Linked DNA regions of Homo sapiens. The protein of the gene in region 2 purifies or fractionates together with the protein of the main gene of each other region. This does not show direct contact. Each region holds a gene or a part of one and is shown on either strand. Other genes may lie near its edges.

Region 1 (7,026 bases), on a different chromosome or scaffold from region 2:
ATTTTTTACTCATCATTTTCTTTGACTAAAATTATTAGAATCTTTGTCATATTAATCTCAAGACCAAATCGGAACAGTAGTGTTCATTTTCTATTTTCAGTATTTTGGAGCATTTTAACATGTCATGCTAGATTATAGGTAGTAGGCGACTCGTTTAATAGAGAAAGTTTTAGCTTGTGGCATATTCAGCATCATATTATCTCGGTGCCATTTCTCTGACTAATTCCACATTTCAGATACAAATGAAGACTGAAGGATTTATTTCTGTTATTTAATAGCATTTGTTTAATTCCGAGATTAATATATCATCTTCAACCCTGAAACAGAGGCCCTCTGAAACATCAGACCCAAAAAATTGGACACAGCCTACTAGCCCAAAAAGAACATGTTGCCAATTATCTCCATGTTTATTTAAATATTTTGCTCTAAAGGAAGCAATCATTCCTTTATACTTCTTTAAATTTAGTATTGACATTTTTATTTTGGGAAAGGAGGTCTTTTTTTTTTTTAACATGGATACAGGAAAAGAAAACTCTCCAATAAAAATATTGTCTAAAAAGTTTGTTTTGTCTGCATGATTTACTAAATATGTACAATTTCAATTCACAGCGAAGGTAACAAAGATTTAAACAGCCAACATCACAAATGTCTCAAGTTCTAAAAAAAAATCACTGTGCACAGTTTAACAATTTAATTGAAAAAACCAAAGCTAAGCCTTCAGTCTGAATCTTTTTTTATGATGGGCACAAGCCATGTATTTTCTTCATCTTTGTTACACGATGCATATTTCAGTGACTAAAAGCCCCTTCCCATTTTAGTATATTAGGTTATGTCAGTACATACTTAAGAGAGGCATAAATTGCCTCTTGGTACACCAATATGATTTGTGATGTGTTCACATATATGTCATAATATTTATTAATATATAGAATGATCAGATGAGTCACCTGTGATTTTTCTTAATGTCTTCAAATGTAGGAATGTTTTGTTGCATGTATAAAATTTTTCAGAATTTATAGGAGTGCTTATATAAGCGATAATAATTGGACCAGTGTCCCTTGATGTAAGGTGTCTAGAAAGAACTCTTCTGCTCTTGAAATATAGAGATTTCACATCTCTACACAATACAGGTTTATAAAGTTTGCTATTATATGATCAAGTGAGTGAACCAATTAATCATTAGAAACAAATGTCATTGAATACAGAATAGTTGAGTTACAGTTAAGAAGGGAGCCATAACCTCAGCTGCCCTATAAAATCTATAATAAGGTGGTTTTCATATATATATTTTTTCCCCATGTGAATTCTTTGGTGTTTTTTCCCCCTCTTTTTTTAGTGCTATGATTGATGAACATGCAATGTGAGATTCAAATAATTGCATTGAGCATGTTTATTTGAATAATTGCCCCATTGCACAATAAATAAATCCGCTGAGTGTGTTTGTTTGAATGTTTTTACATGTACATGGGATCACATAGTCAAATAAATGCAGCTGTGTTTATTACAATGTGTGGGGCTCCAGATATACACACACTTGTTTGTGTGTATATCCAGGGCCCTACAGCCCCTGAATGGCCTCACACATCTTGGAGCAAAAGCATGGTTAACAATTTTTCAGTTCAAATACATGTAAACTTATTATTGGGCAGTCTCCTCAAATTTGTGACTAAGATTTGCTTTTATTAAGGCTTACATTATTAGAAAGATAAAAAATGACCTTTTTAAAAGTTATCTGATTGTGAAAAGTATCTAATACATTTATTCATATTTATTCAAATATAGTCCCTTCTTTCCCCTTTCCTCCAAGCCCTCCCACTCCGCCCCCAGTCCAATTCATGCTAAGGAAGATGTATGTTTTGTTTAGCTCTTGCGGAGAAATTCTGATACGCATCTCTCTTCCCAGTTATTTCAGGCCTAAGCTTACAGTGTCATGTGAAGAAAAAAGAAAAGATTGCACAGATATGCTAGAATACAAAAGGCTCTTGGAGAAAATGGGCAGGGGTGTTCAGTTGTTCCAGTGTTTCCTCATCCTCCCCTGCCCCCTATTCGAGGGGGGAAAGGTTAGATTTAGAACTAAGCGTGTGGGAAGAGTAAGTAGTTGATAAAACAGAAGAACACATCTGATGTTACTAAAATGCACATCTCTTGGTTGTGGAGGGGAATTTCTTGTTTGCGACCTTGGAGAAGAATCTTAAGACAAATCAAAAGTTTTTATTTTTCCCTAGAGTTAGAGGATTATGCAGCCCTAATGTGCAATCGTGTCCAGCGGATAAATAGCATTAAAAAAAACTCCTCAGATATGGGACATTGTAGTGATTGTCACAATTCACAAGTGTTATCCTGATATTTTCAGACTCAGGTATTCTGAGCCTGCCTATGAAATGGAGTTAGGAACAAATGACAGAGAAGGGGGTAACAGGAGGGGCAAGGCAGGGTCTGCCCACCCTCCTCTACTTCGTGCACACTTTCTTCTTTCCAAGGAGAAAGAGTTAGGTTGCACATTCATTGTTTGTTGGTCCTATCTCTTGTGGATTGGGACACAGATATGCCCCATGGGCAACAGAGACCTACATTGCTTTAAAAGAGGCCACAGGGATTTATTCTACCCGGACAAAATTTAATGGCTTGATATTTTCAGGTTGAATTAATAAAGTTATCGCCTAGAGCCTTTCAAACCAGAAAAATTTATGTAGTGTATTTATTTGTGCCATTCAAAGAAGGAGAAACGAGGATAGAATTTTCTAAACTTTCCAAATATAAAAACTCTAGGCTGTGGATAACAGGAGGCATAGCATTTTGATGCCACTCCTCCCCCTGCCCCCCCCACCCCCTCTGCCAGAAAGTTTGAAGATAGAGCTAAAAACATGTTTTTCTAAAAAGGTCTGCTCAACTATTACTGTATCTTCATTACATCCTTTCTGTGTATGTGTGTGTGTGTATATATATATATATATACACACACACACATACACACTTTCTATTGAGTTTCAAGTTGCAAAGAATGACTTTTGTGAAATTTAGGAAAGTGGTATTATGGCTAAGGAATAAATATAAATATGTTGTTCTTGCCAACTGGAAATATCATACTCAAAATTTTAGCAAATTTAATAGCAAAATGATGCTTTTCTTCTTTGATTCTAAAGTAGAAAAAATACATGGACAGCTACTATATTATAGTTCTGTATATTCAAGAGCTGTAAATTTGATAAGGTAATCTGTTTTTTCTGTTATTCTTCACTTGGCAATTAGATTTAAGAAGCAGAATCTAGTTTCTTGATAAAAGTCATTATGTAAAACCTACGAATACATTCATATTCTGAATATTAGGGTCATCTTGTAAAAACTGAAAAACTGTCTTAGAAAATCACGGTTATTTTTGTTAGCATTTGCTTTTAGCTTTTCCTCTCCCACCCACGCCTTCTAGTTTCAGATAAACGGTAAACTACTGTCTGCATTTCAAAAAGTGAGATAAACTATCCCAATCCTTTAAAAAAGGTTACATATTATAAATAACACTGAATAATAGCTGTCTTTTTGAAATTAGACTTTTTTTTGAATAAATCACAAAGACCCCTTGGACAGAGAAGTGAATTTTTAACACATAATCTCTAAATACTCGTAATGCAAAAGTAGAAATGTCTGTAAAGTAAATAGACTAAATTTGAATAATATAACCTCACATAAAAATACACAATCTGGAATCAGGATCAGTTGAGAAAAGCTGTAAAATTGCTGTACATAGGTATGGAATTTTAAAAAACAGTTATTGGTACCAGTCAAAATTATTGCTAAACTAAAATTATATGAAAAAAACATAATTAGCATTATTATAAGCATAAAGCATGTTACATGTTAATGGTCATTGAAGGAAAACTCTCTAAAAGTACAGAACTCATTAACTACATTCTTAGTTTGGCTACATTTTTATTCGAGCATGGTCATTTTCAAAAGAAATTACAAATTGAAAATTCAATAATACTTTTACAAAGACAATTCAGGAAAGATTTTTGTCATGGTATCATACATTGTATTTAACAGTCCCTCTTTTTAGCTAAAAAACAAGATGAAGAAAGTGGAATTTTCAGTCGAAAATACAGTGTTTTCACAAGATCGTATCAAAAGTTCCCAAATTTGGAATTTCCAGTAATTGGAAAAAAACAAAAATAAAATAATAAAATTGAAAAATCCCATCTCACAATTAATGTTCCAAAACACAATAAATGCTCTTCTCTTTACGTAAAATTTGCCCAAATGATCAACGTCATGTTCCTTTTTTACTAAAATATATCTATATATTGAAGAACTATAATACTGTACACTACAGTATGAAATAAATAAAATTAGGAAATATAAAATGAGCCACATAAATAAAATGTTATTTGACCTAAAATTAAATGAATGCAAAAAAAATTTTTTTGTTGCAAAAACAGTTTGGTGTAATACTGACAAAATTAATGAACAAAAAAGTACAGAAAATAATTGCACAAACATATGTAAACTAAGGAACTGCTGCCTATTCTTCTAATACTGACATGGGTGCTTCAAAGAACAGGGTGAGCTTAACACTGAAGCTGGTGCAAAGGTAACCCATGTTACCCTCTTAACACTGTACAAGGATGGCACTTGCAGAAACACAGATTAAAAGGTTTGCATATAAGGCTTTTAAAACCACCTTACAAAGGCTTTCTTTATTTCTCATCTTACTTTTTCCTTCACGTCCAGGTCACTTTAAGACTTCGGTATCTTAAATTCACACATGCATCACTTCAAGTTCCTTCACAGAAAAAAAAAAAAATTGAGGCCTAAAATTGTGTGGTTACTTAAGCTGAAAAAAAAAATGGGAAATTGATGAATAGCGAAAGGAAAGTACAGAGGAATCATAATACTGATGCATTGTAGTGCGAGCACATTAAATTAAAAAGGAATAACAATAATAATAATAAAAATACTGATGTATGGTAGTGCGGGCACCTTTTTAAAATGTATTAATATAAATTAGACATAGTTTTTTAAAGTTTGTAGTGATACATAAGTAGAGTGCAATTCTTACAATTTTCTAGTTGTGCTTAAAGTATAAATGCTATTAAACACAGGAATTAGTCTCTGAACCACACAGTTTTTAGGCCTTAACACTGTACAAAATTTTTGCATAATGCAGTTTTTAACAATACCCAGCTCCAACTCCGTCTACATCTGTCTTGGCTGAACCGCCCCTTCTGTCCCTCTCTACAGCTTCCTGGAAGCGTCAGGCACGTGCATGAACAGCTTAACACAGCAGTGTTTTCAAGCAGGTAACAATACTACTGGAAAAAAAAATAGGAAGCTTAAAATGCAGTAGTTTATTACATGCCATCTTCCATATTGTCTTCCTCGTGGTCTGATTTGGTTTCCATTTTCCCATCCTCCGAACTATCGTCCATGGAGTGATCTCCAGTCTCTTCTTCATCTCGTATCGTTTCGGGATCCGTATCCATACTTTTATTTTCACTTTCTTCCTCTTCCTCCTCGAACTCCTCGTCGCCATCCTGTCTGCCCAGCTTCCCGTAGCCATCCTCGCCTTCTTTCTCGTGCTCCTTCTCGCTCTCGCCATCCCTCGGCATACTCTCCCTCTCCTCCGAGTCAGAGTACCCCTGAGGGGTAATGCTCTGCAAGTAAGCCCGGTTCATCAGCAGCTCGGTGGGTTCCAAGTGCCCTTTCTCGCGCGCCTCGCGCTCCGCCGCTTCCCGCTCCTCCGCCTCCCGCTTGCAGTAGGAATACCTGTGATTCATGTGCTGCGAGTACGAGCCCGAGTGTGAGAAGCGCTTGCCACATTTATCACACTGATAGGGCTTCTCGCCCGAGTGAAGCCTTGAGTGCTCGATAAGGTGGTGCTTGTGTTTAAACGCTTTCTTACAAATCTGACACTGATGTGGTCTTTTTCCTGGGAGAAAGAACAAGATGACAGGGTGATTAGTGTCTTTGCATGAAGTCTCTTTCCACTAATTCTGTACGCGAGTCCAGACTCAGGCATAAGCGTGTGTACTTATGCCTGAAAGATCAACACACCCCGGTCTAATCGATGGAGAGTTAGGAAGATGCATTTCCATCCCACAATTTGGTTTTCTAATGCTTGCTGATGCAATGTAGTTAATAAACAAGAAGAACTTAGAAAGCTGCTGGAGGAAAATTCTCAGACAGGAAGCTTTCCATTGCTAATTGTCTCATTTTAAAACTTGGAAAAATGTTCTATTCAACAAGACATTTCTAGTGATCTAGCACATGTTTTCATCAGGTAATTCTCTTCCTTACATTTTTAAAACAAAGACTTGTACAAAAGTGATAAAGATGGCATCATCGCTGGCATTGGCATGTATATCCTCTGCTTGTTATATCATGAGATAGTTGCTTTGAAAGGGGATCTTAGGTCTTAAATGGGAGCAAACTGCCAAGTTAGGAGGGAGTGGAAGAAACAGAGGAAAGAGGATGTCAAGACTGTCTTATCAGTCATAGGAGTCTAAGAATAAAAATCAGAGAAGAAACCATTAGAAAATACAAATTAGGAGGGTGTATATCATGGAGGCTGAACTGATTCCAAATAGTGTTTTCCCTCTAAAGTTTTCCATAAGATGTCAGCCACTTGTTGAGTGTTAAAATACTCTTCAGCTAGGGAATGCTGTATTTCCTTTGGCATTCCAGGCAGTTTCTAACCAGTGTTTGGAACTTAAAGCCAGTGCCAAGCCTAAACACATCTGGTTGATTCCAGGCCACAAATAGCACTGGAATGCCTTCAACACCTTCCATAGCTGCCATACTTGAAAGTTTATTTCCAAAATAGAACTGATAAAAAAAAATTATCAGCCTGATGCTCCAGAGTTAAAGTCAGAAATGTGTCATGTAGAGTGCCATGGATCACTGTAACATATATGAAGTTGTATGCTTTATTTCCTAATACAAACTTGCATTTCAGCAAATTAAATTAAAACCCAACAAAGTAGATCCAATCCCATTTTCGTTTGCTAAGTGTCATGTTATAAGTTTAGGGACCCA
Region 2 (7,026 bases):
CGTGGTAACCCACAAGGTGCCACCTGCGTCACTGACCATCGTTTCCAGAAGCCCCTCCGGCCACACATTCCATGTGGTATCTCCCACAAGGAAATGTTCGTTTTTTTCCCTGTGAAGCCAGAAATTTCTTGGTGGCTCTTTGCCGAGCCAAACGTTAACCTTGAGTTGTCTCTCTGGGCGGCCCCAGGTGGTACCAGTTCTCACGGGTGTTGAAGGAGAGTGAGGATGGCCCTGAGGGAAGCCCAGTTGGTTTGGTTGGGGAGGCGTTGGGGCTATGGCCCTGAGAGAGGTGTGGGCGGTGTTGGGACCAGGCCCCTTCTGCACCCTCCCCTGGCACCGCCGTTAACTCTCCAGGCCTGGTGTGGCCCAAGCCACCCTGCCTACCCGTGCTACCCTACCCACACGTGCCACCCTGACCTGCTTGTGCCATCCTGCCCGCCCGTGCCACCCTGCCCACCCGTGCCACCCTGCCCTGCCGCCCGTGTCACCCTGCCCGTCCATGCCACTCTGCTATGCCGCCCGTGTCACCCTGCCCTCCCGTGCCACTCTTCCCTGCCGCCCGTGTCACCGTGCCCTCCTGTGCCACCCTGACCTGCCGCCCGTCTGTGGTGTGGGGGCTCCTGGGCTGCCCTGTCTGCGTGGCTGGCAGGAGCCTCAGAGGCATCCGAGGCTGTCTCTCCAGTGGTGTCGTGTGTAGACTGTGTTGGGAAGGGGAGGAAGGTGTAGCCCTGATACCCCACATGTGGTAGGAGCCAGGAAGGTGGCGTTCTGGGGGTTCCTGGAGCTCACAGGTTGTGTGCATGTGCTCGCTGAACAAACAGGGAAACGTGCGGCTCCACGGATGTCCTGGAGAGGAATCTTGCTGGCAAATCCATGCCTTTGATCACAGCCCCTGCGCTGTGTCCTCTGAGCTGTGATGCGGCCCTGCAGGCCCCGTGGAGTGCGGTGGCTCCCTGGCTCACAGGGATGCTGCCGTCCAAGGTGCCGTATCGGCTCGTGGATGACTTGGGCAGTGTCTGTCTGGGGTGCTGTCGTCGGAGGAGCTGTTTCAACCTGTGGGTGACGGGCCTTGTCTGTCTGGGGGAGGTTCTCTTGGCCCCGTGCTCTCAGCCCAGTGGCTCCATGCTGCTGTGCGGCTCCCTCTTGGGGGCCTGCCTTCTCTGCCATTGCAGGGCAGGGCCTCAGTTTTCTCTGGGCGGCAGGTGGCTGTATCTCAGGACTGGAAGGCTCCGGGTCAGGCTGTGCACAGCCTTCGTTCATGTCAGCCCCTGGCTGGGCAGCACCGCCAGGCCCTAGTCTTTGGGCCTCCAGGCCTGGACAGCCAGAGGGGGCATCTCACCAATGCCCAGATGGCTGCCGGGGACTCACGGCAGGGCAGCTTTGTCACGAGAGGGCCACTCGAGCCCGGAGTAATCAGGGCTTATGGGGACAGGGCAGGGTGAGGGCCGCTGAGACCACCCAGCCTTAGGGTGCCCTTCTGGTGGTCGGGGAGCCCTTCCTGGGCAGCGGCTTTAGGGGCTGCTGTGGGGAGGGGGAAGAAGATGGGGTTGGTGAGGAGGAGCTTTTGGGACACTGTCCTGGTGGAGGTCGTGAGGGAGGGGAGCGGACCGGTTGGCCCAGCAGGGCTGGCCAGTGGAGGGACGTGGAGGGTTGGTAGCTGCCGAGCCTGGGTCTGAGCAGGCGGGGATGAGGACCAGGTGCTGAGGCTGGGGAAGGAACAGGGGTAGCTGCTTGGTCCTGGCGCATCTTGGTGCCCCCTGGGACTTCCTGGAACACCCCCCCCCCAGTGCCCAGAGACCCACTGTGGCTGTCTGGATCGGGGCAGGTCCCAGCCCATGGTGACCCCCAGTGTGCCGGGGCAACCCGGTCCCTCTCCAGACCAGAATGGACCGATGCCCAGCACACACGTGGATCGGGGCGGAGTGGGCAGGCGTGGCCAACAGGAGGGAGGATCCGGCAAGCAGATGGTGATGTGCATCCAGAGACAGGGCGTTGACATGTGGCCAGGAGGCTCTGGGGTCATCGGGCCGCCACCGTGCAGCCCCCCGGGACTTGATGCCTCCAGAGAACCTGGGGGCTGCTGCCCCTCACCTCACCCCCATTTACTTTAAAATCAGTTTTTGTTTTAGAGCAGTCTTAGATTTACAGGAAAATAGGAAGCACAAGCTTCCATGTGCTCTACACTCACTTCCCTCGTGGGTCCCTTGAGTGCTTTCTTACAACATGAGGTTAAGCGTCTGCAGGGTGAGAAGCTGGAGACTGTCCTCGTGTCGCTGGGCTGAGAGCCGTGTGCGGCTGTGAGTTTTTGATGAGGAAAAGCAGTGTGGGTCCTGGATTTGGACAGCACAGGCCCCTCTGGGAGCCGTGTGCCTTCACCTCGGAGTGTGTGGGCAAGGTACAGAGCTGGAGCCCTTGACCCTGACCGGCCAGCCAGGAAGGCCGTAGGAGGCCAGCTCCCTGGCGTGAGGTGCGCAGGGCCTCTGGCATTGCCCTAGGTGAGGGCTCCAGGACTCGGACACTGGCTCTCAGTGGGGCAGGTGTGGCCCGGCAGGGGGCGCTTTGTGGGTGCACAGTGGCCCCAGGGTGGTGCAGATGGTGGGCAGACCTACCCCAGGGCTGTTTCTGAGACAGAGGTCCCTGGAGGAGAACCAGGTGCTGGGCCTCAGGTGTCTGTCCTGAACTGGAGCAGCCTTGGAACAAGGAACCACAGGAAGTCCCTGTGGCATGGGGTGCAGCCCCTCAGGTCTGGCAGGGCTAGCCCAGGGAGTGCAGGGCCCCAGGAGCCCTGCCACAGGTTCCTCAGCTCGGGAGCTCACGGCCTCCTCACTGCAGGGTCCTTTCAGGAGGGCCAGGGTGGCCTTCACACATCTGCTTCTTCCTCAGAGACACAGGTGTGGGCACGTACTGGCCAGTATAGATAAGCATTGAGCAGCATTGATGGGTATCGATGATCCTCCAGGAGCAGCGGCTGGTGCCATGCTGCTGTGGGCAGTATTGAGTATTGGCCGGTCTTGACGAGCAGCAGCCGGTACTGGGCCACCGTGGGTAGCATTGATGAGTATTGACTGGTATCAATGAGTATCAGCCGGTATCAATGAGTATTGGCCCGTATCAATGAGTTTGGCCAGTATTGATGAGTATTGGCTGGCATTGATGAGTATCGGTTGGCGTTGATGAGTATCGGCTGGCATTGATGAGTATCGGCTGGCGTTGATGAGTATCGGCTGGCATTGATGAGTTTGGCTGGGCGTGGGTGGCGCGGTGCCTTGCCCCCTGGCCAGGCTGGCTCGTGGGTGAAATGTGACATTTAGGCGGTTTTCTCCTGTCCTTTTAGTTTGTTTTTATGTGGTATCCGGGTACCATGGGGAGATCTGGCATTCAGGGCAGGAGGCTGCAGCGCAGGTCATGGGGGCTCAGGCGCAGGTGATGGGGATCCCGCTCCACAGTGTTGCTCTTGGGCCCTCCGTCAGGGAGTCCCACACAGCACCTGCCATGAGGAGTGGTGTTGGGGACCCTGGATGGGAGGTGCGTGCGTGGGGCTGCACCCCAGCCCCTGTGATGGTGTCTCTGGAAGCTGGAGATGGTCGGCATGTATGCTTGAATCCTGCAGAGGGAGTTGAGGGTTGGAGATTTGTCTGCGAGGCCTCTGCGCAGGGGCGGCCTCACAGCACACTACCAGGGTCTTAGGCTTGGCTGAGTGGCCCCTTCTGGCCTGGCAGGCAGTCGTCTCAGCCCACGCCTGCCATGCTGCTGGGCTGGTGGTGGCCGGCTCCTGTCCTGGTCAGCCTGATGTCAGCTGCACGTTGGGGTCAGCCTCGGTGCTGTGTCTTCATGCCAGAGCAGGGGCCAGGTGTGGGCAGCTCAGTGACACCCTCCCGAGGGCTGGGCGATCGTGTGCACTCTCAAGCCTCTACTGGAAGGCTTGGCCCTCTCAGGGGCCCCCTGCCCCTGTGCATTCAGCCACTGGGGTTCGTGCCCTCAGCTTCCCGCCAGGCCCTGGCCGTAGCGGTCAGGAAGAGCTGAGCAGTTTTTTTGGGAGAATTGAGGGAGCGTCGCCAGGATGCACTGAGGGTCGGAGGTGGAGCCGGCGCGGCTCAGTGCAGGCAGTGCCAGGCTGGATGCTGGAAAGCCAGCAGCACCTCTCCCGGTGGCTCCTGGGAAGTTCCACGTCCTTGCCTGGTCACAGAGGCCCGGGAATCAGTGACATGAGATAGAAGCTTCCAGAACAGGAGGCAGAGCCTTTCCGCAGTTTCCCTGCCCACAGCACACACCCTGTGCCCTCCGTCCCCTGGTTCTTGGACACTGGGGACATCTGGATGCGGCTAGAGCCTGTGGGGGTGGCCGCAGCCCTGGGGGACTGTTCCCAGGAGTAGGCCTCGGGGCCACAGGGGCGCGGCCTCGGGCCTGGCACTGCAACCTCAGGGTGAGCGCCCTTCGTGTGTGCGGCAGGAGCCGGGGCCCCTGGCTGTCAGCAGGCCCCCGAGTCCAGGTAGGTCCCAGACAGCAGTCCCGGGTGTGGCAGATGCAGTGAGGTCCACTTCTGAGGCGTTCCCTGGAGTCTGTGAGTTCTGGTCGGACCTTCGATGGCATTTTAATGTGTCTCTTGTGTTTGATTTTTAGTAAGACTTTGACCCCGACGCAGGCTTCAGTGATTGCCGCGGATCAGAAGCCTGAGCACTTTGGCTCGAGACAATTAAGGACGTGGGATGAGGCTCCGAGACAGGACGCGGTTCTGCCTGGGGATCCTGAAGATAAAAAGCTTTGAAAAGTCGAATTCATGGTCGTGGAAGCTGAGCCCATATTAAGAGATGTCAGGTTGGTAGGGGTTCCTGGCGTCGGCGGCAGAGTGAAGCCGGCCGGTCTCTTTGCGACCGTGTGGAGGAGGCACTGCCTCGGATCAAGTCGAGGGACCTGGGCTGCATGGGCGTCGGGCCGGACTGCTGCCACCTGACCCCCGGTGTGCTCTGGGCGAGGTCAGGTGCCCCTCGAGGGAGGGCTTCCTGCACACCTGGTGGCAGAGCACAGCTGTGGTCAGGCCTGTCCGTGGCATCTGCTGTCTGTTTCTGTCGGAAAGTGTCTGAGAGGCACGGAGGGCCTCCATGTGGAGGCCGCCAGCACGAGGGTGGAGCCCCACACGGAACCCTGGAAATCTCAGGTGTCCACCCGGCTGGCCCAGGAGCAGGGCCGTGGCCCCTGTGGAGCTGTTCCTTGTGGTTGGTCTGCGCTCTCTGGCCCGGAAGTGCGTGCAGTCGGAAACAGCCTTGGGCTTGGGGGATGCTGCAAAGCCTGCTTCAGCACAGGCCGTGTGACTGTGAAGCCTCCTGGGTGTGTCCCCAAGCCTGCAAGGGTGGGCTGTCCGGGGAACCCTGGCACGGTGGTCAGGGGCAGCTCATGGGTGATGTGAGGAGGCACCTTGGGTGCCTGAGCCTGATGGGGCTTGGTGTCTCCACCTGCTCCCCCCTCCCCACCGTTCAGCTGAGGGACCCGGTTCCCACTCACCCAGCACCCGGGAGTCCCCCACGCGGTTCCGACGAGGGACCCGGTTCCCACTCACCCAGCACCCGGGAGTCCCCCACGCGGTTCCGACGAGGGACCCGGTTCCCACTCACCCAGCACCCGGGAGTCCCCCACGCGGTTCCGACGAGGGACCCGGTTCCCACTCACCCAGCACCCGGGAGTCCCCCACGCGGTTCCGACGAGGGACCCGGTTCCCACTCACCCAGCACCCGGGAGTCCCCCACGCGGTTCCGACGAGGGACCCGGTTCCCACTCACCCAGCACCCGGGAGTCCCCCACGCGGTTCCGACGAGGGACCCGGTTCCCACTCACCCAGCACCCGGGAGTCCCCCCAGGCGGTTCCGACGAGGGACCCGGTCCCACTCACCCAGCACCCGGGAGTGCCCCACACGGTTCCGACGAGGGACCCGGTTCCCACTCACCCAGCACCCGGGAGTCCCCCACGCGGTTCTGACGAGGGACCCGGTTCCCACTCACCCAGCACCCAGGAGTCCCCCCAGGCGGTTCTGACGCAGCCGAGCGGTCTGCAGTGATCCCGTGTGTCCATGCCTTCCTCATCAGAAGTGAAATCCAAGGATACTGAGAGCGGATGTCTATCCACTCACTCAGAAACAGCAACATAAACCTTTCTGCTCATGAGAAGTCATCACCACCACACACAGCGGGGAGGGAGGCCACGTGCAGAGGGAGGCCATGTACAGTGTCACTGGGCGGCCTGTCTATGGTGCTCGTGGGCAGCTCCCGTCCAGAGGGAATGAAGGAACAGGCGAACCAGGACGCGGTTTTGACCGTGCAGACCTCACGTTTGGGATCTGGTTTCCTATCTTGAAGGAAAGTGGGTGGAATGGCCAGTGGCTCCTCCGAGGACGCCAGGGCGCGAGGACCTCACGGGAGGGGCATGGGCCCAGCCGTACTGGGAGCCCTCGGCTTTGGGGTGGTCAGTGGAGACCCATGCCCCGTCCCCTGCAGGCGTGTGCTGCAGGCCCACTGCACCCCTGGGCTGTCCACCAGAGCATTTCTTTTCTCTGCCATGGGTTCCAGGAGGCACTTCCCTGCTTCCTGGATACTGGCAGCTCGGTGGCCTCTGCTCACCTGCAGGCGGATGGGGCAGCGGATGGGGCGGGAGACTGGGCCGAGCGTGCTTGTGGCCGCGGCCACTGGAGAGCCTGCTGGGTCACTCTGCTCCTTGGTTCTGTCGTGCGCCTCCCCTCCTGCTGGCCGAACGGTCCTGGGTACTGCTTGGTCTCCTGTGGCCGGTCTTTGGAGGAGGAGGGGAGGGACCGGCTGGGCCCTGGCCCCAGCTCCGCCTCTGCCCAGCTGCCGTGGGGCTGACAGTGGCCCCACCTGGTGCTCCCTGCCTGGCACGGGGCGGTCGGGCGGTGCCTGGAAGCTGCCATGCTTCTGTGACGCCTCAGAGCCCTTATTTCTCCAGTTGGCCCCGATGAGGCTTAGTTGCGTCATACGCGAAAGGAATGGGTGTTAATGAGCTTTAATCATCTGGTTCTGGGA
Region 3 (7,026 bases), on a different chromosome or scaffold from region 2:
TTTTGCTTTTATAAAAGTCTCCTGGACTACATAACACAAATATTTGGAGAGACCATTATCAGGTTATTCTTTCTATTTTCTCACAACAGAACAGACTCAGCTATGGGTTCAACTAATTTTATATATATTATTCATTCAAAGGTGTATCTATACAGCTTTCATTAAACAGTATTAGCTCAAAGAGTTTGTTGTTGTTATTTTAAGACTGGGTCTCAACTCTGTCACCTGGGCTGAAGTGCACTGGCACAATCACAGCTCACTGTAGCGGCACTCCCGGGCTCAAGTGGCCCTCCCACCTCAGCTTCCCAAGTAGCTGGGACTATAGACACATGCCACCACACCTGGCGCCACCAAGCCCAGGTAATTTTTGTATTATTTTGTAGAGACAGGGTCTCGCTACATTGCCCAGGCTGGTCTTGAACTCCTAGGCTCAAGTGATCTGCTAGCCTCGGCCTCCCAAAGTGGTGGGATTATAGGCGTGACGACTGTGCCTGGCCCAAAAATTATTTTAAAAATCAGCTGTGCCTGGTGGTATGGGCCTGTGGTCCTAGCTACTTGGGAGGATGAAGTGGGAAGATCACTTGAGCTCGGGAGGTCGAAGCTGCAGTGAGCTGAGTTTGCACCACTCTACTTCAGCGTGGGCAATAGAGCAAGACTCCATCTCAGAAACAAAAATAAAAATAAAAAGCGCCAGGCACGGTGGCTCACGCCTGTAATCCCAGCACTTTGGGAGGCCGAGGTGGATGGATCACGAGGTCAGGGGTTCGAGACCAACCTGACCAACATGGTGAAACCCCGTCTCTACTAAAAATACAAAAAAAAAAAAATTAGCTGGGCATGGTGGCGGGCGCCTGCAATCCCAGCTACTCAGGAGGCTGAGGCAGGAGAATTGCTTGAACCCGGGAGATGGAGGTTGCAGTGAGCCGAGATCGCACCACTGCACTCCAGCCTGGGCAGCAGAGCAAGACTCTGTCTCAAAAAAAAAAAAAAAAAAAAAAAAGAATATTTTCTGCCGGGCACAGTGGCTCACACCTGTAATCCCAGCACTTTGGGAAGTTAAGACAGGAGGAATGCTGGAGCTCAGGAGTTTAAGAACAGCCTGGGCAACACAGGGAGACCCTGCCTCTACTAAAAATAAAAATAAAAACAATTGTCCGGGCATGGTGGCCTGTCCCAGCTACTCAGGAGGCTGAGGCAACAGAGCCAGACCCTGTCTCAAAAATAAATAAATAGACTAGGCGCAGTGGCTCACACCTGTAATCCCAACACTTTGGGAGGCCAAGGCAGCCGGATCACTTGAGGTCAGGAGTTCGAGACCAGCCAGGCCAACATGGCAAAACCCCATCTCTACTAGAAAAAATACAAAAATCAGCCAGGCGTGGTGGTGGGTGCCTATAATCCCAGCTACTCAGAAGGCTGAGGCAGGAGAATCACTTGAAACAAGGAGAAGGAGGTTGCAGTGAGCCAAGATTGCATCACTGCACTCCAGCCTGGGCAACAAGAACGAAACTCTATCTCAAAAAATAAATAAATAATATAAATACAAAAATTAGCCAGGCATGGTGGCTCACACCTATAGTCCCAGCTACACGGGAGGCTGAGGCAGAAGAATCGCTTGAACCCAGGAGGCGGAGGTTGCAGTAAGCCGAGATCACGCCACTGCACTCTAACCTGGGCAACAGAGTGAGGCTCGGTTTCAAATAAATCAATCAATAAATAAACAAATAAATTAATTAATTAAATAAACACAACAGCCCTTTTCAGAAAGCAATGGTTTTTAAAAATGTCACCCATGGCCCGAAATGTTCCCTAGAGTTTCAACTGGATATACACTCCTCAGTTCCTGTCCTGAACTATTGAGCAGTGTTACAGCATAGCTGTTAAAGAAGCCGCCACTTCCACCTCAAAGGTAGATGCAGTGATGAGTCAAGCTTTCTTCCTAGCATGTTGTAAATGCCAAATGTGTACTAATACAACAGGAATATGAAGAAAGAGGACAGAGAATCAAGATATAAGGGGACCACTGAGAAGCTGTTGATAGTTTTCATGCTGCCACCATGTTTACTATAACATAATAGGATACAATTGAACAAGAAAAATTAGATAATAATATAATAATAGGGCCGGGCACAGTGGCTCATGCCTGTAATCCCAGCACTTTGGGAGGCCAAGGCGGGCGGATCACGAGGTGAGGAGATTGAGACCATCCTGGCTAACACAGTGAAACCCCGTCTCTACTAAAAATACAAAAAATTAGCCGGGCACGGTGGTGGGCGCCTGTAGTCCCAGCTACTCAGGAGGCTGAGGCAGGAGGATGGCGTGAATCCAGGAGGCAGAGCTTGCAGTGAGCCGAGATAGCGCCACTGCACTCCAGCCTGGGCAAAAGAGCGAGACTCCATCTCAAAAAAGAAAAAGAAAAAAATATATATATAAAATAATAGGTCCCATTTATTGAGCACCTACTATGGGCCTGGGATGATTTTGTGTAATCCTCACAGCCCTGTGAAATTGGTATTATCATCTCCATTGTATAGATGAGAAAACTGAGGCTCAACAAAGTTAAGTGGGCCGGGCATGGTGGCCCATGCCTGTAATCCCAGCACTTTGGGAGGCTGAGGTGGAAGGATCACCTGAGGTCAGGAGTTCGAGACCAGCCTGGCCAACATGGCAAAACCCCATCTCTACTAAAAATACAAAAATTAGCTGGACGTGGTGCTGGGCGCTTGTAATCCCAGCTACTCGAGAGGCTGAGGCACGAGAATCGCTTGAAGCCGGGAGGTGGAGGTTGCAGTGAGCCAAGATAGCACCACTGCACTTCAGCCTGGGTGACAGAGCAAGACTCTGTCTAAAAACAAAAAAAAAAGAAACAAAGAGAGTTAAGTGAAGACCTGGCACGGTGGCTCATGCCTGTAATCCCAACATGTTGGGAGGTTGAGGTGGGCAGATCACTTCAGGTCAGGAGTTCAAGACCAGCCTGGTCAACATGGTGAAACCCCGTCTCTACTAAAAATACAGAAGTTAGCCAGGCATGGTGGTGGGCACGTTTAATCCCAGCTACTCAGGAGGCTGAGGTGGGAGAATAGCTTGAACCCAGGAGACGGAGGTTGCAGTGAGCCGAGATCACACCACTGTACTCCAGCCTGGGCAACAGAGCTAGACTGTCTCCGGTTAAAAAAAAAAAAAAAAAAAAAAAAAAAAAAAAAAAAAGACGGGTGCGGTGGCTCACGCCTGTAATCCCAGCACTTTGGGAGGCCAAGATGGGCAGATCACAAGCTCAGGAGATTGAGACCATCCTGGCTAACACGGTGAAACCCCGTCTCTACTAAAAAAAAAAAAAAAAAAAAAAAAATTAGCCGGGCATGGTGGCGGGCGCCTGTAGTCCCAGCTACTTGCGAGGCTGAGGCAGGAGAATGGCTTGAACCCGGGCAGCGGAGCTTGCAGTGAGCCGAGATCATGCCACTACACTCCAGCCTGGGTGACAGAGTGAGACTCTGTCAAAAAAAAGAACGAAAGTAAGTTAAGTGACTTGCCTCCTGCCACATAGCTAAGAAGTAGAACAGCAAGCACTCTAACCTGAGGTTGTCGGTCTCCAAAGCCCCCCCAGGCAATTCTGAGGAGCTCAAGTTTGAGAACCACTGTACTATACTAACTGGGGTGTGGTACAACCAAGTTAAACTGAGTAAAGCCTCATTATCAGAAGATAATCATCTCATGGATTCAGGTATACAGTGCATCAACTCACCTCTGCGATCATAGTCATATACGGTGCACTTCTCCACAAAACTTGGAAAAGCAAAAATCTGCTTGTTCTCCTTGTCCCTGGACATCAGCATTATAACAAAACTCAACAGTACCCTTAAATGGCACTAACACTATGATTTCTAGGCATACCTTAGTAATGAGGTAACCAAATTTTGTTTCTCAGCAGACCCACGGTAAAGAAGCCCAAAACACAAAGCTTTCCCTGCTCCTTGGTACTCTGGATTCCTCACGGACCTTCAGCTTAAGGTTTTCTTAAAATACAAATGAAGAGGTATCCTGCCTCACATACTGTGATGAGTAAATCTGAAAATTACCACATTTTACAAATAATATATCAGCTGTATTCAAATTCATCATAATTCATTGACCAGGGAAAATATGACCTTGACATGCAGCCTGCAGTTACTCAGTTACTTTTTTTTTTTAAAAAAAAGATCCTTTTTTATGTTTTATGGGGAAAAGGTCACTTCTGCTTAGAATAAAAAAGAAAACTAGAACAGCATATTTGAATTACGGGGATAGAAACACAGAGTTAAATTTTACTCTTGACCAGAATGAAACTTCAGTTCGCCAAAGAAAGTTCTCATCATAAAAGATTGCTTTTAAGTTATGAACAGTGGGAAAGGGAATGATTTAATTTAGAAAAAGAACCATTTCTACATTATTTTAAGGATAACCATTCAAAAATGGGCATTAATAAAGCCTAGTTCATATGTAAAATTATATCAAATACTGTACTAGCATCCTAGTGGCCGAAAAGTAGATATTACCTCCCTCTTTGGCCATCCTGACACTAAACACTCTGGCAACCATGGACTCACACCTAATTCAAACTCCAGCATTAAGAAACTTCCCTTCTCTTTGAAAACTCAAAGGCCTAGGGTCTTCCCTCTGGGTTATGTAATCATCAGTGGCTTCTACCTTTTCCTATTCTACCCCAACAATTGTGTCACTTTCTCCAGCACCCTCTCTGTTCCACTCCGGTGTTCACTTTCCCACCCAAACTTGACCTCGAATTTCTTCACTCTGATTCTGATGCTGATTGGCCCTGAAGAACAGCTCTCTACTCTCTTTGGCTGTTCTATTTCATCCCAAGCTTAGCTCAGCCCAGAATCAATGAATTACTCCATGTGGCCTCCAGTCCAAGCCCTGATTAGAGCCTCTCTTCCATGCCCCTAACCCCACCCTCCAATTCTGGCCCACAGGCTCTCATGTCACTCAGTTTTTTATCCAGTTTCACCCTGGAATTTCCATCACTCATCTCCTGATACCTAGGATCCTTCCCACCTGCAGACTGGAAACACTGGTGGATTCCCACTTTTTCCTTCTTTCAAGGCCACTCTATTTAGGACAGTGAATCCCTCCCCCCATTCAGTATCCTTACTTTAGTCTAGATTTTCTAATTAATGTTTAGATGTGTAAGGCCTGGATCCCAGCTAACCTCTGCTTCCTGGGCCCTCTCAGGGCAGTGGCTATCAAAGGCAAGATTTTCCGCTCCCTAACACCGGCTCCAAAAGATATCTGAGTAAATATCTTCCTCCTTTGGCTCTTAATTCCTCTCTTTTTCTCTCACATTCTGCATTTTAACCTGTATATAATCTCTAAGTTCCCTATTTCCTTATGGATAAATATGCTTGTATTTCTCTCTAAATGCCAGTTTCTCCCCCACCCTACTTTTACCCCATATATTCCTTCTCTCTTGCCCCAACCTTAGTGATTCCAGCATGAAATTGTAAAGAGCTTTAAGAGTTCTTCAAAGTTTACTTTGGAAAACATTGTCCTAGAGATTTCAAGGTTTGACTTTTTCCTTAGCTGGCCCTTACATGGGACCAGTGATGATCACCTTTCTTTTCCTTTCATTGCTCAACCAGCCCTCTTCCTGACTTCTCTTTCTTGCCTTCCTTCCCTCTAGTGTCCAAGTCCTTTTTTCCCATAATTCTGTTTCTCTCAAAGAAGCCCTTCCCTACAACCCATAATCCAACCAATAGTGTCCTGAGATCCTCCACTCCCTGTACTGAACATTTTTTTCTTTTTTCTTTTTTTGTTTTTTTGTTTTTTTGTTTTTGTTTTTGAGATGGACTCTCGCTCTGTTGCCCAGGCTGGAGTGCAGTGGCACGATCTTGGCACACTGCAACCTCCACCTCCCAGGTTCAAGCAATTCTTGTGCCTCCACCTCCCAAGTAGCTAGGATTACAGGCACGCCCCACCACACCTGGCTAATTTTTGTGATTTTAGTAGAAACGGGGTTTCACCATGTTGGCCAGGCTGGTCTTGAACTCCTGACCTCAAGTGATCTGCCTGCCTTGGCCTCCCAAACTGCTGGGGTTACAGGAGTGAGCCACTGCACCCGGCCCATTTTTTTCTATTTCATGAACTGCATCATAAATGAAGCAGAGCCCTGTGGAGGACCCCTCTTTTCTTCCCAAGAATGTCTATGTCACTGAGAAAGGGATCCTCCCTCTTTATCTACGCTTTCCTGGCAAATCAAAATAGCCAGACCCACATGAGTGTTTTTGGTGCAGCCATCATGTCTTGTGGAACTCCCTCCACTCTGCCCTATGCAGACTCCAGCAGCAGAGCTTGCCAGGGCCTTAGCTTTTCTCTGCCCTATGCCAACGATTTGTTTTGCTGTCCCTTCCTTATTGGCCTTTTCTAAAAATTTGCTGTCCCTTCCTTATTGGCCTATTCTAAAAAAATTTTTTAAAAATCCTCCTGAACTCAGACAAGGGAGAGGTGAAACCCCTCTCCTTCCTCATCAATGACTTACAGCCAGGACAAAAATAAACTGGGCCGGATGGATCACCTGAGGTCAGGAGTTCAAGACCAGCCTGGCCAACATGGCGAAACCCTGTCTCTACTAAAAATACAAAAAATTAGCCAGGCGTGGTGGCGGGCACCTGCAGTCCCAGCTACTCTGGAGGGTAAGGCAGGAGAATCACCGGAACCCAGGAGGCGGAGGTTACAGTGAGCTGAGATTGTAGCACTGCACTCCAGCCTGGGCGACTGAGACTCCATCTAAAAAAAAAAAAGAAAAGAAAAGAAACCTAACCACCCTTGTTGCAAAGCTGGTATCAGGATCAGCCCTCTTAAGGTCAATTTTAGTCAGGATCTGTGCCCCAAGGCCTGTACCTTTCATCCCTCACATCTGCCCCAAGGGCAGTTGCCTAAGTTGCCCTGTCAAAAGATGTCCGCCTAACAACATCCTCATGACTTAGTCAAGATGGCCACATCCCTAAACTCTACTATCAACCTTCAGATTCTCTT
Region 4 (7,026 bases), on a different chromosome or scaffold from region 2:
ATGAAATAACATGATTTTTTTTCTAAATATAAATTGCCCGAATTAGTGCAGACATTTATTTTTCCACGTCATGCACCTGATAAAATCATGATGCAGACTGATATGTGCGCCTATCTGGTTGGCAGGCTAAAAACCAACCAACCTGCAAAGGTGTACCAACTTGCCTGTAACATAACATGCCCAGCTTAGTGAAGCTCAGTTAGAGCACCATCTTCCTCATCAATACGTTTCTTGCAGTACTCACCGGCTGCAGGAGCTTTTATGTATAGTGGTAGTTCCTCAAAGGAGAATTTACCTGGTAAATGATGTGAACATAAGGAAGATCTTGAGAGAGTGGATACACTGAAGAGGATTTCTTCCCATTATGCAGACGGTTTGTAAGTTCAGAAAGACACCGTTGCATTTCAACCAGGTTCCTAGATAAAATTTCCACTTCCTTAGACAGCTGATAAGTTTCCTTTTCACTTTGTAAGTTCTTTCTTTGAGGCAAACGAGGAGGCTCCAGTGTGCTGGTGTGGTCTGGTGTGCTGCTGTGTCTGGGCAGCGATGCTGGCTGGGTAACAGGCTCAGCATCTAGAGCTATGGAGCCATCACAGATACTAGACAGAGGACTCTGGATTTCTTTAATAAGTGTTCTTCCAGGCCTTCCATTCTGACTACTGGTATTAACTGTCAGCAACAGCCCTTTGTTTTGGTGACAAAAATCTGGGGAAAGACTTTCAATTAACTTTTTTCTATTTGCTTTATTTAACGGAGCACTGAAAGTAGAGTAGGTAGTCTGGCTTTCACCTGATGTTATTGAAGGTTCTTCTTCCAACATTATTTCTCTAACAATCAAGCTAATGGCATACTGATCAGACTTTGAAGAAGGAAGAAATGTTGTATCAGTGAGTTTTTGTTTTCCTACCAAAATTAGTAATAGTTGGTCTGTCAAGAAACATATCCCTTTTGGTCTTTCAGTGTTCTCTAATCGAATTTGCTGGATGTTTGGGACTGAAGATGGAATGACAGAGTAGATCAAAATTATATTACAAGTGTTGGAAGCCACTGCCACTACGTGGGCTTTAAGATTAAATGCTATCAGATCAGGAACCAGAATGCCTGGAATAGTGACTTTTCTCGTCATGGTAACTGCCTTCTTAAAGGTCACAAGGACCAAATGTGAAGAATCTTGGCCAGTTCCTGTCAAGTAGTCCTTTTTTCTTAGACAAATAAGAGAATTACCCTCAGACTTATGTTGATTGAAATGTATGTGAGTTAGATCCAGAGGTTCTAAATAGGAAGAAGAAACTGATACTTCAGAATTTGTTTCAGAATCAGTTGCCTCTTTATCCATAGAGCGTACTTCACCAATAACTGGTAAAGCATACGGAGTCATGTCTTTACTGTTAGGTGGGATATTAAAGGTTTCAGATGCATTTAAGCCACAGATCTTATCCAATGGAAGCTCAGTAGCTATAGCAACCTGTGAGTCCACAGTTGCTGTGATGGAGCAGACGTGGCTGTCCACATCAAACACCAGGCAGGAGGAGCACCTGTGAAGAGTCTTCTGAGCGCTGTCCCAAATATAAGAATGCAGGCTGCTGCCTACTGCCACCACCAGCCTCAGGCCATCCTGGGTCCAACATGCACAGTGAATGCGGCCCTGGGTGTTGATGTCTGCCTTTACCTGGGAATCATCAGAGTGAACATTAGGGAAAATGGAGACATCCTGAGCAGTCAACACAGTCAGAATAGCACATTTTGGGTGCCACACACAGCCCTGGGGAAGGATAGGTAGTGATCCTCTAATCTCACAAGTCTGAGACGTCAGCCATTTGCTTGACTCCATAGGGCTGGGACACAGCTGCCACACAGTGACATGCTTCTCATGCTGGACAGCGAGTAGAACAGGTGTATCATCTGCAACAGGTGGGGCCCAGGACAACCCACAGACACATTCAAACTGTCCAATGACTTTGGAGTCCCCAAACTTGACCTCTCCACTGTGAAGCCGCAAATCAGTTAGGACAACTTGATTCCCATCGGTCCAGGCAAGGCCATGGATCGGATGCACTGCTTGATGCAACGCATTCAGTCCAGTCCTGAGTAGTTTTCCTTTTCCCAACTCCATCCTTTTGATAAAGGTTACCTGAAATGATTAAGAAGGAAAGTTACACCATGAGAAATCTAGACAAATCTAGAATGTAGGACATTTGGTAAGACAACGGCTTAGCCCCTTCCCAGGTTAATAATGTGGAGAGACAAAAGGACAGGGGGAGTATTATAAATTAAGAGACTACTGAGCTATCAGGCAAATGCAATGTATATACTTTGGATCTTGAAGAAATAAAATCTTCTACCTAATGAAGATTTTTAGAACTGGGGAAATCTGAGTATGGAATGGATATCAGAAAATATTGTAGAGTTATTATTTTTCTTCTTTTTTTTTTTGAGACGGAGTCTCACTCTTGTTGCTCAGGCTGAAGTGCAATGGCACAATCTCGGCGCACTTCAACCTCTGCCTCCTGGGTTCAAGCGATTCTTCTGCCTCAGCCTCCAGAGTAGCTGGGATTACAGGTGCCTGCCACCAGGCCCAGCTAATTTTTTTTTTATTTTTAGTAGAGACGGGGTTTCACTATGTTGGCCAGGCTGGTCTCAAACTCCTGACCTCAGGCAATCCACCCACCTCAGCCTCCCAAAGTGCTGGGATTATAGGCATGAGCTCCCGCGCCCGGCCAGAGTTATTAATTTTCTTAAGTGTGAACATGGTATTGTGGTTATGCAGGACAAGGTCCTTATTATTTAAATAAGCATGTTGAAGCACTTGGGGTAAAATGTCATGATGCCTACAATGTGCTTTCAAATGGTTTGACAAAAAAAACCCAAATTTTCTATAGACACACAGAAAGAAAACAAATGTAGCAAAATGTTAATAATTGTAGAGTCTAGATTGAGGCTATGTTAGTATTTATGGTACTTTCAACTTTTAAGTTAGAAAATTTTCCAATTAAAAATTTAAGAAAAGTCTCCTCCATCATCTAATTTCTATTCGTCCTTTCACTGCCAAATCAATGAATAACTGATATGCACATCTCTGACTTTATTAGCACTTATTTCAAATCCTTCCAAAGTGGCTTTTATCCCTCTATTGAAATGACACTCAAAAATCACTGTTTCTATTTCTACTTCTACTTCATCTTATTCAACAGCACTTAATAATTTTCAGAACATTTTCACATTCCCTATTGCATTTTATCTTACAATAATCTTTTAAAATAATGTAAAGTAGGTTAGGCAAGTATTATCTTCATTTTTTCACCCTGAATATTTTTCCCCCAGGCATTTGAATCACTAAAGAAGCATATGCTTAGGGCTGGGCGTGGTGACTCACGCCTATAATCCCAGTACTTTGGGAGGCTGAGACGGGAGGATCACCTGAGGTTGGGAGTTCGATCCCAGCCTGACCAACATGCAGAAACCCCATCTCTACTAAAAATACAAAATTAGCCAAGTGTGGTGGTGCATGCCTATACTCCCAGCTACTTAGAAGGCTGAGGCAGGAGAATCGTTTGAACTGGGGAGGCAGAGGCTACAGTGAGCTGAGATCGTGCCATTGCACTCCAGCCTGGGTAACAACAGCGAAACTCCACCTCAAAAAAGAAACAACAACAACAAAAAACAAGTACATGCTTAGGCTGGGCACGGTGGCTCATGCTTGTAATCCCAGCACTTTGGGAGGCTGAGGCGGGTGGATCACCTGAGGTCAGGAGTTTGAGACCAGCCTGGCCAACATGGTGTAACCCTGTTTCTAATAATAATACAAAAATTAGCCGGGCATGGTGGCGCATGCCTGTAATCCCAGCTACTCAGGAGGCTGAGGCAGGAGAATCACTTGAACCCAGGAGGTAGAGATTACAGTGAGCCAAAATTGCACCATTGCACTTCAGCCTGGGCGACAGGAGCAAAACTCTATCTCCAAAAAAAAAAAAAAACTGTTCCCTCCTACTCAGTGCCAGCCCCTTTAGCTCCTCCTCCTTTCCAACATTTCAAAGCCTTGATAAAAGCATCATTAACAATTTGGTGTTTAGCCTCTGAAAATGTTAAAGAAAGACACAAAGATATATAGGATTTTACATGTTATGGCTTTTCTTTTAAACAAAAAATGGGGTAGCCAGGCATGGTGGCTCATAGGCATGAGCCACCCAGCACTTACACCCATTACACCCAAAGTGTAATCCCAGCACTTTGGGAGGCCCAGGCAGGCAGATTACCTGAGGTCAGGAGTTCGAGACCAGCCTGGCCAACATGGTGAAACCCCATCTCTACTCAAAATACAAAAATTAGCTGGGCTCGGTGGCAGGTGCCTGTAATCCCAGCTACTCGGGAGGCTGAGGCTGGACAATTGCTTGAACCTGGGAGGGGAGGCGGAGGTTGCAGTGAGCTCAGATGGCGCCACTGCACTCCAGCCTGGGCAACAAAAGTGAAACTCTGTCTCAAAAAAAAAAAAAAAAAAAAAAAGATACATATAGTCAGTAGGGAGAATAAGGACATTATTTGGATAAGCTGTAATACCTGAATACTCACTTTGAAATATAAACATAAAAAATACTATTTAATGTAAAATGAAAAACTGCCTCAGGAAAATTATATTTTGAAATACTATCAATCAGTGGATACATAAATATATAATAATGGATATAAGAATAAAATGTTGCAATAATAAACACAGACTGAGAAAGACTAATTTTAGTATAAAGCCTGGGTGTGGCAGCTCACGCCTGTAATCCCAGCACTTTGGGAGCCCGAGAAGGGCAGATCACGTGAGGTCAGGAGCTCAAAACCAGCCTGACCAACGTGGAGAAACCCCATCTCTACTAAAAATACAAAAAATTGGCCGGGCGCAGTGGCTCACGCCTGTAATCCCAGCACTTTGGGAGGCCGAGGCAGGCGGATCACGAGGTCAGGAGATCGAGACCATCCTGGCTAACACGGTGAAACCCTGTCTCTACTAAAAATACAAAAATTAGCCAGGTGTGTTGGCGGGCGCCTGTAGTCCCAGCTACTCGGAAGGCTGAGGCAGGAGAATGGCGTGAACCCTGGAGGCAGAGGTTGCAGTGAATCGAGATCGCACCACTGCACTCCAGCCTGGGTGACAGAGCAATACTCCGTCTCAAAAAAAAAAAAAAAAAAAAAAAATTAGCTGGCTGTGGTGGCGCATGCCTGTAATCCCAGCTACTCAGGAGGCTGAGGCAGGAGAATCGCTTGAACCCGGGAGGTGGAGGTTGCAGTGAGCCGAGATCGTGCCATGGCACTCCAGCCTGGGCAACAAGAGTGAAACTCTGTCTCAAAAAAAAAAAAATTTAGTATAAAAACAATTACTGGGCCAGAGCCAGGCGCGGCGGCTCACGCCTGTAATCCTAGCATTTTGGGAGGCCGAGGCGGGCAGATCACCTGACCATCAGGAGTTCGAGACCAGCCTGACCAACATGGAGAAACCCCGTCTCTACTAAAAATACAAAATTAGCTGGGCGTGGTGGCACATGCCTGTAATTCCAGCTACTCAGGAGGCTGAGGCAGGAGAATCACTTGAACCCAGGAGGCGGAGGTTGCAGTGAGCTGAGATCATGCCATTACACTCCAGCCTGGGCAAAAAGAGTGAAACTCCGTCTCAAAAAAAAAAAAAAAAATTACTGGGCCAGGTGGCTCATGCCTTTAATCCGAGCACTTTGGCAGGCCAAGGCGGGTGGATCACCTGAGGTCAGGATTTCGAGATCAGCCTGGCCAACATGGCGAAACCTCGTCTCTACTAAAAATACAAAAAAATTAGCCAGGAGTGATGGCACACTCCTGTAATCCCAGCTACTTGGGAGGCTGAGACACGAGAATTGCTTGAACCTGGGAGGCAGATGTTACGGTAAGCCAAGATGGCACCACTGCACTGTAGCCTGGACAACAGAGTGAGACTCGGTCTCAAAAACAAAACTAAACAAAATGACTGTTGGCCAGGCACAGTGGCTCATGCCTGTAATCCCAACAATTTAGGAGGCCAAGGCAGAAGGATCACTTGAGCCCTGGAGTTCGAGACCAGAGATCAGCCTGGACAACACAGCAAGATACTGTCTCTACTTAAAACAAAACAAAACAAAACAAAAAACCCCCCAACAATCTACAAACATATATAAAGTGATGTTTAACCTTATTAGTTATCAAATAGTTGTGTAAACTGGCAGTACTCATATTTTTCACCACTCACTCTCTTCTTAATATACTTAAAATGAATTCCATTCCAATTTCTTCTCCAAAACATCTCTCACCAGGCCACCAGTGCTTCCCTGTCACTGAATCTAAATGACATTTTTCAGCCTTGTTTTACTGAGTAAGTGTCAAAGGCAGAACTTGAGAAGTTGTCTTCAGACTCTAAATCCAATGAAATGTATTCTCTACCAACCTGGTGATTTGCTTATCTGTAAATTATTTCGCATATCTCCTTGCTAGCTTTGTCCTTGCTCTTAGGATCTTTCACTTAAAAAAAAAAAGGGTCTATTATGCTTTTATATATGATGTCAGATTCAGTGGTTCTGCAGCGGCTTGCTAAACGGAGAAAAAAGTCCAGTCATTACTAATGAAGAAAACTGTGATCTCTGTCCCACTGGTCTTATGAAAGATAATAATGTTTTCTCCCTAATATCTACTTATGTACTTTAAAAAGAATTTTATTGATAAATAATGCCATGATACACTTTCATGGGCAGAGAAAATTCCTAATGGGCCAATTACATCCAAGTCGATTTATATATTTTAGGATACCAAATTCTGTCTAATGTCAATGAGGGTGTGTGTGGCCAGGGTAGCACAAGACAAGGATTTGGGAATAAGAGAAAAACAAACATAAGTTTACTGAGGTTTTTTTTTGGGGGGGGCGTGGGGGCACAGTCTTGCTCCGTTACCCAGGCTGGAGTGCAGTGGCATGATCTGGGCTCACTGCAACCTCTGCTTCCTGGGTTCAAGTGATTCTTGTGCCTCAGCCTCCCAAGGAACTGGGAT

Evidence for each region.
Region 1: the proteins of CTBP1 (region 2) and ZEB2 purify together in Homo sapiens (affinity purification with mass spectrometry; 8 studies listed by BioGRID and IntAct, with this or other methods). This does not show direct contact.
Region 3: the proteins of CTBP1 (region 2) and BCORL1 purify together in Homo sapiens (affinity purification with mass spectrometry; 4 studies listed by BioGRID and IntAct, with this or other methods). This does not show direct contact.
Region 4: the proteins of CTBP1 (region 2) and WDCP purify together in Homo sapiens (affinity purification with mass spectrometry; 5 studies listed by BioGRID and IntAct, with this or other methods). This does not show direct contact.

Annotation. Positions count from the first base shown.
Region 1 is NC_000002.12:144,384,109-144,391,134, forward strand, and holds part of ZEB2 (zinc finger E-box-binding homeobox 2), read right to left. Parts: intron 5,921-7,026; coding exon 5,343-5,920; 3' UTR 1-5,342. UniProt on the Homo sapiens protein: Transcriptional inhibitor that binds to DNA sequence 5'-CACCT-3' in different promoters. Represses transcription of E-cadherin. Represses expression of MEOX2.
Region 2 is NC_000004.12:1,239,114-1,246,139, reverse strand, and holds part of CTBP1 (C-terminal-binding protein 1), read left to right. Parts: intron 1-4,620; 5' UTR 4,621-4,808; coding exon 4,809-4,815; intron 4,816-7,026. UniProt on the Homo sapiens protein: Corepressor targeting diverse transcription regulators such as GLIS2 or BCL6. Has dehydrogenase activity. Involved in controlling the equilibrium between tubular and stacked structures in the Golgi complex.
Region 3 is NC_000023.11:129,985,626-129,992,651, reverse strand, and holds part of BCORL1 (BCL-6 corepressor-like protein 1), read right to left. Parts: intron 1-7,026. UniProt on the Homo sapiens protein: Transcriptional corepressor. May specifically inhibit gene expression when recruited to promoter regions by sequence-specific DNA-binding proteins such as BCL6.
Region 4 is NC_000002.12:24,037,382-24,044,407, forward strand, and holds part of WDCP (WD repeat and coiled-coil-containing protein), read right to left. Parts: intron 2,132-7,026; 5' UTR 2,114-2,131; coding exon 296-2,113; intron 1-295.